Regions from separate parts of the Homo sapiens genome. Here region 2 is linked to region 1. The links come from fine-mapping of genetic effects on gene expression. A gene starts in region 1. The other region holds a variant in brackets. All regions are shown on one strand. Distances are from middle to middle. Region 1 holds the start of PTPN13 (protein tyrosine phosphatase non-receptor type 13). Region 2 has its middle 73 kb from the start of MAPK10.

Evidence for each region. PIP is the estimated chance that this variant, and not a neighbour inherited with it, causes the effect.
Region 2: its variant is the best candidate, but not a certain one, in a credible set for the expression of PTPN13 in whole blood (INTERVAL, PIP 0.76).

The regions. Positions count from the first base shown.
Region 1 is chr4:86,591,334-86,596,716 of GRCh38, forward strand. It overlaps PTPN13 (protein tyrosine phosphatase non-receptor type 13), which reads left to right and starts at 2,982. Exons shown (of 48, transcript NM_080683.3): 1 at 2,982-3,456. It also overlaps a transcript of MAPK10 not described here. RefSeq lists an enhancer at 2,633-3,219.
Region 2 is chr4:86,430,201-86,435,583 of GRCh38, forward strand. It overlaps a transcript of MAPK10 not described here. Among named protein-coding and RNA genes, the nearest start is that of MAPK10, 73 kb to the left of the region's middle. RefSeq lists an enhancer at 2,453-2,995. The variant CT/C (reference allele first, on the strand shown) is at 3,355.

The DNA.
Region 1 (5,383 bases):
CATGAGAAAGCTCTTGATTTTCATATGTTTTTTTATTATTATTATTATTGTTATTTTTGAGACAGGATCTCACTCTGTTGCCCAGGCTGTAGTGCAGTGGTGGGATCATGGCTCACTTCAGCCTCGACATCCTGGCCTCAAGCAATCCTCCCACCTCAGCCTCCAGAGTACCTGGGACTACAGGTGCATCCCACCATGCTTGGCTAACTTTTTTATTGTTTGTAGAGAAAGGGTTTCACCATGTTGCCCAGACTGGTATTGAACTCCTGGACTCAAGTGATCTGTCCACTTCAGCCTCCCAGAGTGTTGGCATTACAGGCATAAGCCACTGTGCCCCACCCCCCGTATGTTAATTTTATAACTAGTTATCTTAATTTATCTTTTATTGCCTCTAAAAGCTTTTCAGTTGATGCTTTGGAGTTTTCATATTATTTGCAAACAAATGACAACCCTGACTTATTTACAGTACTTAATTTCTTATTTCTATTTTATATCTAATTGCATTGGCTATCGTTTCTATTGTTACAATGTGATGGTGAACATTCTTGCCTTGTACTTGACTTCAATAGGAATAATTATGATGTTATGTTATAAAGGAAGTGGCTGGCTTTAGTATAACATATATATATATTTAAATTATTACAAATTCTAATTTTTATTGGGAATGATGCTGGACTTTACAAAATCCTTTTCAGCATCAACTGAGATCCTCATAATGTTTTCCTCCTTTGACTTACTAATATAATCAAGCATATGAGAAAATTTTCTGTTATTGAACTATTGCCATAACTATACACATGAAATAATTTCTCTTAATTTTGTTATATTATTTGTAATGTAGTGCTGGGTTCCATTTGTTAGTATTGACTTTTACATTATATCCAAAAGGAATTTAACCTGTAGATTTCCCTTGTGTGTACTTTTTAACAGATTGTATTTTAAAACCAGTCTTTCAGCTCATCCAAAACAGAGGGATTACTGGTGAAAATGCCTTGAGGGCAACCACCTGAAATGGCCTTAATAAAAAAAAAAACACGAAGAAGAAAAAGAAAAGGAAAAAAGCTAACAACACTGTGGTTTGTCTACTTTTGCGGAAATTTACAACACTATACTTGCTATACCTTCTTTCTGATGTGAATCCACAAGCTATTGCAGCCATTAATTAAGGATATTGCTTTTCTTTCCAATAAATACATGAACTTTCTTTCAGAGGCAAACAGAGACAGATGTTTCATGAAAGTTTCTGTTCTTCCCAACCTGCCTTTCCTACCTCCCTGATAGATGATCCAGAACATTTAAAAATGGGGGAAGAACTGAGAAAAGGGCTCCAATCATCCACTTGTGTTTCCCATCCAAGGAGCCTGGCCTGTTATTTACTTTCACCACTTATCCCTGCTGCTGCTGTTTAGTTTTTGTTGTTCCCCTCAACTGACTTTCCTCATCTTTGCTGCATTCATCAAAGCCCAGTGTAAATTCCCCTCTTCCATAAACTGAGGAATCCAGCCCATTTTACATAGCAAACTTTCTCTTAGCTGCTACCTACTCAAAGTTTGGCTGCACATTTTAGCTATAATTGTTCTCAAATTGTTTCAAGAGTGCTAGTTTTCTTTCTTAGGCTCCAGGTTAGCTCCTTGGGAGCGGGGACTTAGCTTAAAATCCTGCTGTGTATTTTCCGTTGTGTTTAGCCCTATGAGTAATCACATTCAATGCATACTTGTAAGGCATATTTGACTGAAGATATCTATCATAGTTATTCATTTAGTAAATGATATAATGAAAACTCAAGTGCTCGCCAAAGATAAATCATTACTATTAATTCCCTCATTCATCATACATGTATGGCAGCCTCAGGGGCTAGGGAACCTAGGATTGCTGCTTTGACTTTTTTTGGGGAAGCCAAATAAGCCTCAGATCTCTCCACTTTGGAGCCAGCCATGAAATTCAGATTTACCTAGGGCTCAACATTAAGGGTCTCAGACTAAATTTATCTTCAGGTACCCTTTCCAGAGTGGACCAGTTTACCTTATACCTCTGAGAATAACCCAAAACTTTCAAAACTCAAATCACAGGATATTATTTGTTCATGAATTCAGCAAGACTCTCTTGTTTAACTATTGAAACTCAAATATTTCGGCTTGCAGCAAGGAGGGGTACAGCTGTCTGGATATACCTTGGCCAAATTTCAGTGTATATAGAAAAGTGGGAGGTTATCGACTATGTTAAACCTTTTCCTTAAATTTTCAAACTTCGGGATTATTTTAGTCTCATAGATAAAATAACAAGGCAAGTATTTACAAACTTTTTTCAAAAATATGAGAATTTCAGTTTTCCCTAGGGCATTTGGCGTTGTGCTGTCACCACACTTTTGAAGATAGCTTTACAACCGTGGGAAAACTCACCGGGCTTTTTTCGTTGACCCCGCCATTTCTAAGTTGCTATATTGCTGCAAGGAGCTGGCAAAGCCATGCTCTTCCTCTCCCCCATTCTCCTCTTCCTTTCAAAGACCAAAGCGCCCCGTGAGAATATAGAAACAAGGCTGAGAGGCAGCGAAGAGTAAGGGAGGAGCCAGCACTTACGCATTTTTCACTCTCCTCCTCACTCCCTAGGGTCATAGTTTTGATTCTGAAGTTAGAAGTGTGGGGGTCGTCGGCTGCATTTTCAACTTGGCCTAAAAGTTGGAGTTCACCACACTGCAGGCGCTAGGAACTCTGCCGCTCGGTCACCAACCTGAGCCTCTGGCTAGTCCGAAGAACGCGAAAAGCCAGGCCCAAGGCACTGGTTGTCATGGCAACCGGGGCGCTGGTCTCCCTGGCGACCTCGTCCCTAGGGAGGAGGTGGAGCTGGATGCCAGGCGGGCCAATGAGGTCGAGGGGAGCTCGGGGTGGGAGATCTGCGGTCCTCCCAGTGCCGGGGAATGGTTGAGTGACAGGACCGGGGGGGCGGAGCCGGCGCGGCTGCCCGAGGTGGAGCCCCAGTGGTGCGAGTAGCTCCAGCGGCCACGCTGAGGCGAGGGTGACACACCATGCTCACGGCCCCTGGAGACCGTCGTGCTGGCGAGCCGTGCTCCGTAGCTCCCCGGTCCGCCTCGGCAGCGGTCAGAGTCGCCTACAGGAGTTGAGCCGCCCGCGCCAGAAGGTTTTGGCGAAGCTCTTGGAGAGGCGTCGAGCACAGTAGGGCGGCGGGGGTGCGTTGAGCGCTCGGGGGTCAGGCAGTCGGCCGGGATCGCCGCTGGGGAGCGTTTCCGAGGCGAGGAGGAGGAGGAGGAGATGCTGCTCCTCTTCTCCCCCTCCCCAGGCTCCTTCTACAGCTCCTTCAGCCCACGCCCGCAGCCGCTTGTGGGAGAAGTGGTGGTGGCTCTCGGCGCCCGCGGCGGCTGCCGGCGGCCCGCCCCGACGCCGCGTCCCTGCAGCCCTCGCCCGGCGCTCCAGTAGCAGGACCCGGTCTCGGGACCAGCCGGTAAGGACGAGAGCCGCCCTGGGCTCTGCGCTGCATGTGCAGAAGTGCAAAACAAAGTACATTGCGCTCGTTCTCTTCCTCCTCTCTCTGCTTTCGCTCCAGTCCCTAAACCCAACTCCTCGGTTGCCCTGGTAGAAGGAACTTTTCTTTGGTTTTGGTGGTGGGTGTTTTTGTACGTTAGAGTGGGGGTGGGGTGACTGGAGTGGGGAAGAATGAGATGAAACTCCATTGCTAATTAGGTAGATCCATCTCCTCTGCGGAAGAAAGCCGGATTCTCGGGAATGAAACCCACAGGGGGAGTAAGAGATTGTGGGGTAATAGGGAGTGACATTGCCCCGTCGTGCTTGCACAGCTCCGCTCTGTGCGTGCTTAAGGGAAGGGCTCCCGGAGTCTGTTTCTAATTTCTGCAAATGATTGTGGAGATGGTGTGGTTAGAGGCCGCCCAGAAGAATGTGTGTGTAAGGGCTCGAGAAGGGGGTGGGATGGCGGGGAAGCAGAGGAAGAGGGGGCAGAGGGAGAGACACTGTCTGATGCAAGGTCTTTTATTGCTTTTCTTCTGCTTGCTAAAGTTAACACTCTACCCTCCGGCCCCCTAGCCCCACCGCTTTGCTCATTACGTGATACTGTAAGAGCAGACAGCTGGGAAGCTAAAGTTAAACCAAAGTCAAGAAAATTCTTACAAAGTTTAATTTCCTTCTGTTGTGAATATAATGGAGAGAGGAGGATGGGGAGAAATATCACTAAGAGATTTACAGCAATACAGTTTTCATTGGCCATACACGTATATGATCGACACCACCGCACACTTCCAACTAATCTGTTCGACAGCCTTGTGTCATTTTCATTTAATTGCATCTTTGAAACAACAAACGCGGTGACTTCATAGGGAGCTGCCTGGAGCTGAGCTCCCTCGCAGAAAATGGGGCAATCGGGTTTGTTTTCAAGGCAGGACCTGAACAAAATGTAGGACACCTGATCTGTGGGATGAAGGGCGCTGGTAACTAATTATAAATTTTAAGATTTTAAAATTTATATCTAGAAAGTTTACTAAAGGATGGGGGGGGGAGTAAAAGTGCATGTATTATGAAACAAGCTTAGGTATTTTCCTAAAGTCTTCATGACTGTGTTGGCAGGGTCCAGGTGAAAACTTGCTTCATGCTCATTGGCTGCTTGTAGTGGTGCCAATATACAAATTATTTCTCGTTTTAATATCACTAGGAGCATTTGTTAGTAAATTCATACATATATTGATTTAGTAAATTTATACAGAGGCGCACTGACTGACGTCCAATCTTGTTTATTATACTTTGTTCATAACATTGTGTTCTACTTGATGTTCTAGAGGCTTTGTGGGAGTATGTGTGGGGAGAGGATAGGATGGAAATTAGAACTAAAAACAGAAAAATATTTGAGGTTAGTTGTTAAGAAAAGGACTGATTTCATAGTGTTTTTCACTTTTACAATTAGAGAATGATAGCTTGCTTTACCATTATGTAGGTTTATCTTTGAATTTGCATTTGTCCCACCATTTTTACTTGCATGTAAAGCCTAGTTATATTTTGGAGGGTGATTACCAGCATCCAAAAATATAAATGGCTTTTCATGTCACAAGTAACATACACGCACACCATTAAAACCAGTGTCAATTTAAAAGTCAGATTTTAATTCTATGATGGGGTCACGTTATAAAACTTAGGTCATCTTTTTGTTGTTGTTTTTGAGGGCTGCCTCCTAAATACGGTATGTGAATGTGAGAATTAGCTAATCATTTGTTTTGGAGTAGATAATATAAATGATAGGTGTTCATCTTTAAATGAATGAAATTTATGTATTCTTTGTTATTGAGAAAAACGGGTGTTGATTTGTTCTGTCTTTAATGTGTTAAGGATTGGATGGGGAAGTGTTGTAGCTTCTCCCGTATCAATGG
Region 2 (5,383 bases), 160 kb before region 1:
TCAAGAATAATTATTGATTGAAAATCCAACATTCTATAAGAAGAGAAGGAAGAATAAAACAAACATAAAACTGGTCCATGTTATTAAATGTATCAATGGTTTTCATTTTCTACAGCATAAAGTATGAATTCATTGGCACGGTACTAAAGTCTTTGTCTACCGCCCAACTCTCAAGTCTTTTTCTTTCCTTCAACCAATATATTTTAAACAATTATTTACCAAGTATCCATTGTGTGTTTGGCCCTTTGGTAGGTGCTAGAAATACAAAAGGAGAGAGAGAGAATTCCTGACAGCGCAAAGTTTAGACATTGGCAGGAGATACCGATATTTAAATAAACGAGTAGTTATATACCATAGAGTTGGGTCAAGAGCTATGAAGGCTATTATAGGATTGCAAGAAAGGCATATAATCTAAGGAGTACAAAAATTGTCTCTACAAAAGCGCCATTTAAGCTAAGACCTAAAGAACAAAAAATTGTCCAGTCAAAATTATAGGTGAATGAAGAGGTGTGGCAGTACATGTGAAGGCCCTGAGAGGAAAGGGGACTGGCACATTAGAGGAAAAGGGAAAAAACGTCACGATACAGAAAGTGGCTGCAAACGAGGCTACAGAGGTAGATGGGGCGCCAGATCAGAGAAGTCTTGTAAGTCAATATAGGACCTTACCCTGAGAACAACGGAAAAACCATTGAAATATTTGAGGCAGTTGTGTGAAATATTCGTATGCTTTTCAAAAATTATTCTGGCTGTTTATATGGGGAAAAAACTGACAGAAACAGGAATAAAAGCCAGGCTATTATTATAAGAAGGCTATTGCAATGGCTTAGGCTAGAAAAGATGGTAGAAAAGAAGGAAAGGAGCAAGAAAGAGAAGGAGAGAGAGAGGAAGAGAGGAAAGGAGGAAGAAAAGAGAAAGAAAAGAAAAAAGAAAAGGAAGATAACCTTTTAACAGTTTCAAGTCAAATGACAATTAAGAAAAAATATTTTACACTCATACCAGGCAAAGAGCTAATTCCAATAATATATAAAGAACTTCTATACATCAATAAGACTAACAAATCAATTTTTAAAATGGGAACAAATAAACAGTTTAATAAAAAGGATATATAAACGTTATAAACATGAAAAGATATTCATGACAAGAGAATTAAACATTAAAATGACTGATATTTTTCACTTAAAATATTGACAACATTGAGGGTCCAAGTGAATGCCAGTTTGGCAGTTTAGACAAGTGTCATCTGACAAAACAGAATTTCTACAAAATATTTTATATTATATTCATGGAAATTCACATTGTATTCTCCCATAAAATACATACAAAATCCTAAATATAGAAATAGTATTTAATTTGGCTTAACCCAGTGTTGCAGGTATCAACTAAATTAGAAAGAGGAGCTTTACTCCTTGTTAAAGTTTGCAGCCAGCAGAGTGGCCATTCTGACAGGCTGGTCAGCGTAGCCTTTGGTCAGAAGCTAGAAACAAGCACTTCAAGGGAGGAGTAAAGGAAACAGGAATTTATGCTGAGCAGGATGGCCAAATATACATATTTACTAAGCTATAGGAAGAGTCGTGTTATGAAAAGAGAAACATGTGCATTCGCATTGAGCTTCATGCCTCTCCATGGGACCCGTGTTTAAAAAAATGGCAATATTAGCATGATCCGAGGGTGGAGTTTTCAGCCCTATGATGTCAAAAGGTGAAGCAGAGGACATGAAAACTCTCTCTGTGTATCCTCCTTACACTGCCCAGAACCACTTCATGGACAGCGGTCTTTTATTAGGAAGGAATGCTGGTCAGATGTTTTGTTGAAATCCAAAAGGAGAGGCAGCATCAGGCAGTGGGTTGATGTCAATGGCAGAGTCTTTTTAAAAAGCTGATTTCTGTGTAGCCCCTAGAGAAGAAAGCCTAATGGTGGTTAGCTAGCCAGGAGGGTCTAATGAGATGGGTCCAACCTCCCATCCCATTTTCACTGGGAACTCAGTTTTCAAGGTTTTTCTGGGGTCCCCTGGGCCAAGAAGAGGCCCATTCAGTCAGTTGGGGGCATAAGAATTGTTTTTTGCTTGTTTGTTTGTTTTGTTTTGTTTTGTTTGGAGATGGAATCTTGCCCTGTCACTGAGGCTGGAGTGCAGTGGTGTAATCTCCACTCACTGCAACCTCCATCTCCTGGGTTCAAGTGATTCTGGTGCCTCAGCCTTCCCAGTAGCTGGGACTACAGGTGCACACCAGGACGCCCAGCTAATTTTATTTTTGTATTTTTGGTAGAGACTGGGTTTCACCACGTTGGCTACGTTGGTCTCAAACACCAGACCTCAGGTGATCTGCCTGCCTCGGCCTCCCAAAGTCCTGGGATTACAGGCATGAGCTACCATGCCCAGCCAGGATTTCATTTTTGTTTCTCACAAATTGGGTCTTCAGAAAACAGACTCTAAGATGGAGATTTCCATGCAGGAACTTCATTAGGGAGTGGCCTAAGGGCTGGATCCAATGATAGGACTTGTTACAGAACTGCACTCACTACTTGTAGTGGGAATGAGAGGAGCCCAAAACAACAAAGCCAGGTGGTGGCAATCAATCCTCAGTGGCAAGATAGGCACAGTTACCATAATGGGCAACAAGGGCAGATGGCTTGACTCACAGGGATCAATGGAGATGGCAAACAAAGCATAAAGTTCTTCTGGGAAAGAGAAATAGGCAGCCAACAAGAATAATCCTTAATTTGCATAACCAAAGGCCATCTAGCCAGCTCATACCTGTGGGAGGGAGGAAGTAGAACAAAGGGTAAAAGCTGAAGATAATGAGTACTAATTATGGTCTCAGGATCAACTGTAGCAACAGGGGCTGTAGTTTGTCCCACTAACCCTCCTCTTGTAGATTTTTCCAGAAATTGTAACCAGCCAGAATTCTGGAGAAACCACACTTGTACAGAGGGAGGTTAATATGAGAAGCAAGTGGATTTCAGCAGTGCAAGGAGCAAGCTGCATCAGGCACTGTTGATGCCCCCTACCTACATCCCTTTACTCCATTGATGCCCACATTTGCCCCCTTTCTTTTGGTAATTGCCCTTGGACAACAGGAGCTGCCTCCCCAACCCCCATGCTGCAGGCCCCACTCTGAGGTTTTAGGCCCTCCAGGACCCCCAGCTGGAGCCAACCTGCAGCTAATACCAAAATACAAAAGGTTGGACTCCTTTCCTGAAGGCATGATCAACTTTTTGGTGCAATTAATACTCTAGAACTCCCTGTGGAATTATCCTGAAACTAGATTTCAACTGAGATCACATTCTTGCTTAACTTTTTTCCTCCCTCCTATGTGTGGTCCAGGATCAAAATATTATCACAGTCTGGGCCTTCTT[CT/C]TTTTTTTTTTTTTTTTTTTTTTTGTCTTATAGAGATGGAGTCTCACCATGTTGCCCAGGCTGGTCTCAAACTCCTGGGCTCAAGTGATCCTCCCACCTCAGCCTCCCAAGCTGCTGGGAATACAGGCATGAACTATCGCACCCAGCCTAGGCCTTCTTTAAAAACTGCTGGACCACGACTAGGCCGAGCTGTGCCCAGTCCAAGGCTCTAGTTCAAGGGAGCATTGAAGGAGGAAGGTTGACCCTTCAAGTCATCTAAATTAGTGTTTTTCAGCTGAACCTCATGACACATGAATGAGCCATGAAATCAATTTAGGGAGCTACCACTCCCATTTCTTAAACAAAATGTAACAAATTACAATAGAATAGAAACTCTCCACACGTATCACATGGAGAAAAGCGTTTTTTCCATTGAAACTTTATTTCCACTATATATATGCAAGTTGATGTGTATGTATGTGACTCAGAATATAGAGTCATGATGTAAAATATATATTTGACATTGAGTTGTAGTCAATAAACTTTAACGCCATGAATCTAAACAGAAAAGAAATGGTGACAAAGGTACCAAGAACATGCAGTGGGGAAAGGACAGTCTTTTCAATAGACGATACTGGGAAAACTGGAGAACTATATGCAGAAAAATGAAACTAGACCCCCTATCATGCACCATTGGTCTGGGCAAAGAGTTTTTGTATAAGACCTAGAAAGCATGAGCAACCAAAGTAAAAATGGACAAATGGGATCACATTAAGCTAAAAAGCTTCTGCACAGCAAAGGAAACAATCAAGTGAAGAGACAACCCACAGAATGGGAGAAAACATTTGCAAACTATCCATCTGACAAGGGATTAATAACAAGAATATGTACAGAACTCAAACAACTCTGTAGCATAAAAACAAATAACCAATTTAAACATGTGCCAAAGATCTGAACAGACATTTCTCAAAAGAAGGTATACAAATGGCCAACAGGTATATAAAAAACCTGCTCAACGTAAGTAACCATCAAAGAAATACAAATCAAAACCACAATGAAATGTCATCTCACACCAGTTAAAAGGCTTGTATCAAAAGGACAGGCAATAACAGTTGCTGGCAAGGATGTGGAGAAAGGGGAAACCTCGTACGCTGTTGATGAGAATGTAAATTAGTACAGCCACTATGGAGGACAGTAGGAAGGTTCCTCAAAAAACAAAAAATAGAACTACCATATGATGCAGCGGTCCCATTGCTGGGTATGTAGCCAAAAGAAAGGCAATCAGTGTATTGAAGAGACATCTGTACTCCTACGATTATTGCAGCACTATTCACAATAACCAAACATGGGATCAACCTGTGTCTGTCAATGAATGAGTGGATAAATAAAATATGATCTATATACACAATGGAATATTGCTCAGACATAAAGAAGAATGATATCTGATCATTTGCAGCAACATGGACGAAACTGGAGGTCATTACATTAAGTGAAATAAGCCAACCACAGAAAGACAAATATCACATTCATATGCGGGATCTTAAAAAGTGAATCTCATGAAGATAGAGAGTAGATTGGTGCTTACCAGAGGCCAGGAAGGGGCCAGGGGATGAAAGGGAAAAAAAGAATATAAAGGTAGTTATAACTGCTGAACTGTCCACTTAAAAATGGCAAAGATGAGGCCAGGCGCAGTGGCTCATACCTGTAATCCCAGCACTTTGGGAGGCTGAGGCGGGCGGATTACCTGAGGTCAGGAGTTCGAGACCAGCCTGACCAATATGATGAAACCCAGTCTCTACTAAAAATACAAAAATTTACCGGGCATCGTGGCAGGCGCCTGTGATCCCAGCTACTCAGGAGGCTGAGACAGTATAATTGCTTAAATCCAGGAGGCAGAGGTTGCAGTGAGCCGAGATCACACCATTGCACTCCAGCCTGGGCAACAAGAGCAAAACGCCATCTCACAAAAAAAAAGGCAAAGATGGTAAATTTTATATGTATATTTTACCTTAATAAAAAAGAATAATTTTTTTAAAAAAGAAAAGAAAA